Linked DNA regions of Homo sapiens. The protein of the gene in region 1 interacts with the protein of each later gene in a biochemical or structural test. Each region holds a gene or a part of one and is shown on either strand. Other genes may lie near its edges.

Region 1 (3,987 bases):
AGAGCGCCAGACCCACACTTGATCCAAATGTTCATTTATTCCACAATGAAAGAACATGTTCCTTTTGTTAATGGGACCAACCCATAAAGAAAAACAATGATAAATATTCCACTAGCTACATTTAGACTGATATATTCAAATTATATTCAAATTTTTGTTTTACATAAATGCATTGCCTTGGCCAAACTTTGCTTCATAGGGAATGAAGTAAGTACATTGTTCTGGTGCCCCTTCACGCTCATGAATTACATGTAACACTTAGAATAAAACATTTTATGTGCTGTGAAAAATGCATAGGCAATAGTTAAAAATGTAAAGATAAAAAAGGAGTATTAAATGTCTTCAGATCTCTTTTTACAGGTTAATTTTAGCATTTGGTTTAAACCACCAAAAAAAAAAAAAAAAACTAAAACAACTAAAGCACCGTGAGGAAAAATTAATGTCTGGCTCAAAGCATAAAAAGGAAAAGAATCTTAGATGCCTAAAATAGTGGATTCACATTCTGTAGTGAGCTATGTGTATTTCTTTTGTAATGGCAATGAACACAAAACCCTGGATAAACCCATTCTCTTTTTTCCCCCCCTTTCATCAGCCATCAGTAGCCAATCGGGCCATGAGAAGAGTTAGTTCAGTTCCATCTAGAGCACAGTCTCCTTCTTATGTTATCAGCACAGGCGTGTCTCCTTCAAGGGGGTCTCTGAGAACTTCTCTGGGTAGTGGATTTGGCTCTCCGTCAGTGACCGACCCCCGACCTCTGAACCCCAGTGCATATTCCTCCACCACATTACCTGCTGCACGGGCAGCCTCTCCGTACTCACAGAGACCCGCCTCCCCAACAGCTATACGGCGGATTGGGTCAGTCACCTCCCGGCAGACCTCCAATCCCAACGGACCAACCCCTCAATACCAAACCACCGCCAGAGTGGGGTCCCCACTGACCCTGACGGATGCACAGACTCGAGTAGCTTCCCCATCCCAAGGCCAGGTGGGGTCGTCGTCCCCCAAACGCTCAGGGATGACCGCCGTACCACAGCATCTGGGACCTTCACTGCAAAGGACTGTTCATGACATGGAGCAATTCGGACAGCAGCAGTATGACATTTATGAGAGGATGGTTCCACCCAGGCCAGACAGCCTGACAGGTGCGTACAAGGTGACAGTGCTACATAAAACCCAGTGAGGAAATCTTCTGTGTAACTTAAGTTGAAACAAAGAATGAAAAGGTGGAAAAGGCTCATTCGTGTTTTTAATCTCAGATTTTAAACTATAAACTTAAGGTTAACTTGTCTTTCAGGTTCTGTAATTCTTAATACATGAAATTATATACATTTATATCAATAGAATCCTTTTGCAATGGATATAACTCTTTTGTAATATTTTCCCACTAAATATTAGGGTTTAAAATGTGCTTTTTTTGCATTTCATAAGTATTAGTTGCAATTCTAAGCAGTTGACTAATTTTTTTTAATGAAATATTTTTTACCAGCCAGGCCTACCCCTAAACATACCCTAAAGTTATGTTAAAAGGTGGTATCAGAATATCTGTTTAAATGTTTAAATTTTTTCTTTAGAAATGCTTTGGTAATATAGACTAGACTATGAATTTTATCCCCTACTTGATTTTGGCATTTTAACGGTAAATGCACAAAGCGCTTATGAATCACTTTTACATGCCACTCCTATTAAAGCAGAAAGACACCGGGTCCCTAATACAGCTGTTCCAACTTCAGGGTTTTTCGTGGAGGGTTTCCTACATGGTGTAAAGATTTGGTTATTTTAAATAAAATGCAATTTAACTTTAGTGTTTTAAATTATATTTTAAAAGTAACATATACAGAATGGTAAAAATTAAAACTATATGGGAAAATATTGAAATAAGTGAAAGCCTTTTACCCTCACCCAGTCCCATCACAGTTGATGTGGCTTTCAGAATGTTTCTTTGCATTTACAAATATATGCAATCCATGCAAATCTGCACACACATTGTGTTTTCTATTGATGGAATTCTATCATATAGATCTTCTATACTTTGTTCTTTTCACTAACTATGTCTTAAGAGCTCTACCTCATTCTTAATAGATGCATGGGACCCATTTTTTATAGATATATCATAATTTATTTGCATTTTCCTCCTAATGGACAGTTAGGTTGTTTGTTATGTTTAGCTGTTAGAGATGATGTAGTACATACATTGTTCTCCCTGCATATTTCACATAAGTACTAGGGTAACTGGGATCCAGTAGAATTGCTGCATCAAAATATATGTGTATTTTTACTTTGAGAGATATTACGTAGAATTGCCTTCTAAGAAGGTTACACACGGATTTATATTTCTGCCAGTAGTTTGAGTGCCTGTTTGTCTATACCTTGTCTACACTGCACTAGTGCTGCATATTCCAAGTTTTTCATCTTTGCCAATCTGATAGGTAAAAAGCTGTACCTCATTGTTTTTAAGGGCTTTTATTGAGTTATGACTGAGGTTGAAGATTTAATCTGTTCATCAACGACTTTATTTCATTTTGTGAAACTACAAGTTCTTTTGTCTATTTTTATAATTCGTGAAAGCTTTTTTTTACTAGAGATAAGCTAGCACCTCGTAATATGCTTCTCAAGTATTTTTTCCATTTTGTCACTTCTTTTTATTTCATTTTGGTTTTAATTTACAAAACTGTTTAACATTCTTACATAGTAAAATTAGTATCTTTTTTATGTCTTCTAAGAAAATTTAAGCCTTTTTGAGATTTTTGTGATTGAATAATTTTGCCTGGAGAATTTATATTGAACTTGATTTTTGAGCTCAAAGAAATTCTTAGTGGAGAAACCACCTCTTTTTCATTCATCTATCCAAGAAGTGTGCTTGACTTAGATATTTTCTGAAATGCCTCTGAAAAGTATGCAGCAAAATGATGTAGGAATCATTTATGAAATTCTACCTCCCAAGGAAATCTTAGAAAATAAATAGTTCTGAGGACTTCCATATTCCCCCGTGTGTATAGAACAGCTATGTAGAAATCTCTGCTTGTAAGAGAGTAGAGAGGAGACTGGAGGAAGGAAGCCAGCATATAAATTATTGTCTCCATATTTAACCCTAAGAGGACTCATTTCCTCTGGTTTAAACAGTCTGTTTCTCTGACAATGCAGGTAAAATTAGACTTTATGTCTTGGGGGGAAAATATATATAATGTCTATTTTTTAGGCCCAGCCTCTCAGTGATTTTTTTCTAGAAATACTGCAGTGTTCTCAAGAAGCAAAGTGTTCTTGATTTCAAAGGACTAATAGCCTGCTAATTGATAAGCAATGTTTTGTACTACATTCAGGGACTTGGGTATTTGATGATCATAATTTAAATGATACAAACTACAGAAATATATATATATATACTCTAAAATGTTCATTTCAGAATAATCATGGCATGTAAAGAAAACTTTTGAGGAGATAAAGAATTGATCTTTGAAAGATAAATTTATGTTTATTTCTAATGCCATAAATATAAATATTTTTAATCACATGGAATCACCGTAATAATAGCTAAACTAATATGTTTGTGGAATTGCAAATAGAAAGTATTGGTTGGATAAATAATGCAGTGGCGTATCAGTGTTTTCCATTATTTGGAAGGGGAAGTAATGTTATTAAAAATTAATCAGTGGAAATGCTTCTGAAAAAATTATTTTTTATTTATTTTTATTTATTTTTATTTTTTTATTTTTTTTTGAGACGGAGTTTCGCTCTGTCACCAGGCTGGAGTACAGTGGCACGCTCTCGGCTCACTGCAACTTCCGCCTCCCGGGTTCAAGCGATTCTTCTGCCTCAGCCTCCCGAGTAGCTGGGACTACAGGCGCCTGCCACCATGCACGGCTAATTTTTGTATTTTTAGTAGAGACGGGTTTTCACCATGTTGGCCAGGATGTTCTCGATCTCTTGACCTCGTGATCTGCCCGCCTCAGCCTCCCAAAGTGCTGGGATTACGGGTGTGAGCCACCACAC
Region 2 (3,987 bases), on another chromosome or scaffold:
AATTTACTGATAAAACATATTAAGCATAATAGAAAATGAGGCAGAAACCACTCCAAGCTGGGAAACATCATGACATCTGTAGTGATAAATATTTTGAAAATCTAACTCTATGAATCTTGTGATTTTTAGCTAAATCAATTTTCACCCTTGAGACCCAATTTCCTCATCTATAAAGTGTTGTAAGCATTAAAAGTTATAATATTTGTGAAAATGCTTTGAAATTATGTGATACTCTGAGAAGTAAATTTTTTCATGTGAGCCCATGAAATCAGAGCACATAGCCTTTTAGCATAAACTTGATTCCAAATGATATCTCTTCCTTTCAGACACTGTGAGCAGATAAAGGGATAGTTTAAGGTTAAGTGATAGAGGCATAATCCCTTATAGGCCTTTGAATTCTTTTAACTTTGCATTCTTTATTTCAGAGATTTTTCAGGCTTCTCCAGATTCTACAGTCTAAATAGTTTGTAAATCCACACACTTCTACTTTGCCAGGGATTTCTTAGTGTAAAAATATCCTGAAGTCTCACCTGCCTTCAATCCTTACTGTGTCCATACCCACCATTACCAGGATAATCTTTGTAAAAGGCAGAACTTACCTTTGTCCATTCCTCTTTTAAAAGCTCCTATTGGTAGAAAATATACTGAACCCGTGATTTGATACCAAGTATGTTTTGGCTCAACTTTTATGAAAACAAATATTTAATTAGAATATACCAACATTTATGAGTTTTCCTTAAAGATAAATTTTGGAGGAAAAAAACTCCATTAGACCAATTTAATTCCCTGATGATTATATATATATTACCTAGTGAAATCCTTGGCAGTTTTTCCATTTTAATTTTAATTTTACTGAACTAATGTTTAGCAGCATCACTTTCATTTAATTTTTACAATAACTATTAGATTCATGAATCCATTTTACCCATGTCAAGTTCTACTGAATATAGCTTATGCTTGGAATTTTCCTTTGTGATTATTACTTTTCTAAAGGTAATTCTTCTTTTCAAACAATACAGATCTAAATTTTCCAAAACCATTTAAATTCTTCTCTTTGGCCAGAAACATTTTCTGTGTGTAGTTTTGGCTACCGCTAGTTTAGTTTTTTTAATTGGTTTTGTGTCTCAATGCTACAAAAAATATAATTTATGTAATTTTTCATTTTTGTCAAACTTAAATCGGGCAATATTAACCATTCTCAATTTTTTGTTGTGTTGAAATTTCTATCAGTGACATTAATGTGGAGATTGACAGCTCTTTGAGCTAGATTCATTTTGAAATTTTAAGACTTTCGATTATTTCTTATCTAGCCAATAGAAACTTTAGAAACACTTTTAAGACTGCTTGATAGCCTGGAATTATTATGTTTGAATTCTCATTCATTTGTATGGTATTCCTCTTATTAGCTTTCACACTTAGTACCAATTTCTTATTCATTATTGGAGCAAAAAGTAAAGAGAAGAATCAAGGTGATAAGTTTAAAATCTTCTCAATGTAAAATAGTGTGTGGGGAAAGTGTCAAATCATCCTACTTTGGTCTTTGTGCATTTAGGAAAAATAAAAGCAATTAGCATTGCACACACATATGTAATTGAATCTCTTCAGATTTGTCTGGCTTTATCTCTAACCACTTTGTGACTCTTTTTGTAACTTGCATTTTTCTAAAAATGTGACCTTGTTTGGTCTTCCTACTGTTGGCCATGCTGTTTTTCCTTCTCTCCACATCTTTTTATCAATGGTGCAAATTATAAATTGTATTCAAATTTACTGTAAAGATCATGTCCTCTAGACAGCCCCTATCCCACTTGTATAACCCTTGCTCTTCAGCCCCTTTCACACCTGCATAGGTATTCTTCTGCTGTGATGATCCTTTGAATAATTCTCTTGGAGTTCTCTTTACCAGGCTCTCTTGCAGCAACTGGTGAGCTCATGTAGGCTATCACTGGGTCTCTGCTTATTTGCCAGTGCCTGCAGGTCCTCAGTACCTGTTTGCTGAACAAACGAATGGTCTGTCAGCTTAACCCAACTCTGTATGTAGAAGGCACTTAATAATTCTTAAAAACAATTTTGATTCTGTCCTTTTATTGTTATTTATGGGAATTATTTATGGTAAAAATTTCTACATAATAGAAAATTTGGAAAATGTCAAGAAATAGAAGGAAAAAGAAATTGCTTAGAGCCCATGCTAACATTTTGTTTTTCTTCCTCTATCTTTTGATCACATGCTGTGTATGAAATTTCATGTTCAATTTTTTCCCAAGTAAACCTTGATTATTCTAGACAATTTGAAAAATATAGAAATGAATAGAAAAATAAGAATTTCAGGTTTCCAGTTCTCAGGATCTAAAAACTTTTTGAGTATTTCATTTGACTAGGACAACTAGATCTATTCAGTTATTTATTAACTTATTAGTTCATTTGATAAACAACTATTTTGTGAGTGTTTTCCATGTAATTTGGGCTGAGGACACCTATCCCATGAAGCCCGTATTTTCTATCAGTGGCTTCTTGGAGATGGTGTTTTAAATCTTCCAAAATCTTCATCAGCACCCCAAAACTTCCTCCTCAAAGTAACAACATACCTTGCTACAGATAATTATTGGTGTTATCAATGTTTTATAAATTATAAATTTAAAAATCACTATCTTAAGATCTATATATAACATATTAAGTAAAACTTATATTCTTACAAGACTTCCTCCAGGTCCCTGTTACAACCAGATTTTCTTTGCAGACTTTTAAATTATGGAAGTTCTGGTGCTGCCACTGAGTTGTGTAGATTATTATTAGATATTCAATAAATAAAGTTGGTAGATGTGAAGAGGTACTAGACAATAGTCCTATTTTGTTTTGGTTTGTTTGTTTTGTAATTTATTCTGAAAAAATGTTTATGTGGAGAGAAAAGGGAAAACATACAGAAATACACAGCACACAAACAAATTCTTACTTTTTTTTGGTAGTCTTTCTAATTTTCCAAGGTCACCAGCTAATAGCAAATGAGAGTTGTAGGGGGTGGGGTGAAGGCTGGGGTCTTAATCGGGGTCTATCTGATTCTAGATAGACCAGATTCTAGATTTTCCACTCGGTTACTCAATCTTCTTAGTGGTCAGTTTAATAACCTGGAATTTAAGACATGACTGTGTGATGATGGGCAAATCACAGCAGGACTGAATGGGAGCTGGTAATTTCTCAGAGGTTGTTTGTGTGACATATGCATGTAAGTTCATTCACCTGATTTAGCTACTTACATGAACCATTGTGCACTGAGCTGCTTCTATATCTTTAGCATATTCTGTATCTATGTAAAATTCACATAAGATTGTATGACTTTTATAAAAAACAAAAAGACATCTTTGATTAATTTGTCTTCACTATGAATACTGATGTGATGTGTTACAATCATCCTGAAAAGGAGGCTAACAAAGGACAGGACTGAGTCTGTCTTGAGGTGAGTGATATGATGGAAAGAATGGATTTTCCCCCACCCAACTCATTTTTGATATTACATAAAGTGAAAAACATTAAATAATTCACCAAAGTATCTAGATTTTTTTTTGTTTTTGAAGTGCAAGGGAAGTAACTTGACCTTTGTTAAACACTTTGATCATGGAAAACACATAAGGTTCTCATCTTATTCCAGGAAGTGTAGACACTAGATAATCTTTTCATAGTCATCCAAAAAGCATATTAAGTGAACCAGGTAAATCCATCCTACACTTTTTATTCCAGAGACAAGTTGGCTAAACTTTGAGGAGACTAAAACAAAACAAAAAAAAATTATTGTTTGGTTCATTTGATAAATGTGGATTCCAATCATATAATTTAGGCCAAATATTATACTTTGACTTCTTAGACTTAGATTTCCAGATAGTCTGGTTTATAAAATAAGATTTTAACTATGCTTACTAAACTCTATGTATTTCTACTTTCCAATGACCCATGTTCTTATTTTCTGAATTTACTTATTGATGCTTTAGGTATGATAAA

The links. Proteins that work in one complex are often made in the same cells at the same time.
Region 2: of the proteins of PKP4 (region 1) and PTPRC, one has a biochemical effect on the other in vitro, tested with the Homo sapiens proteins (one large-scale study listed by IntAct).

What each region holds. Positions count from the first base shown.
Region 1 is NC_000002.12:158,624,286-158,628,272, forward strand, and holds part of PKP4 (plakophilin-4), read left to right. Parts: intron 1-592; coding exon 593-1,142; intron 1,143-3,987. UniProt on the Homo sapiens protein: Plays a role as a regulator of Rho activity during cytokinesis. May play a role in junctional plaques.
Region 2 is NC_000001.11:198,645,370-198,649,356, forward strand, and holds part of PTPRC (receptor-type tyrosine-protein phosphatase C isoform 1 precursor), read left to right. Parts: intron 1-3,987. UniProt on the Homo sapiens protein: Protein tyrosine-protein phosphatase required for T-cell activation through the antigen receptor. Acts as a positive regulator of T-cell coactivation upon binding to DPP4.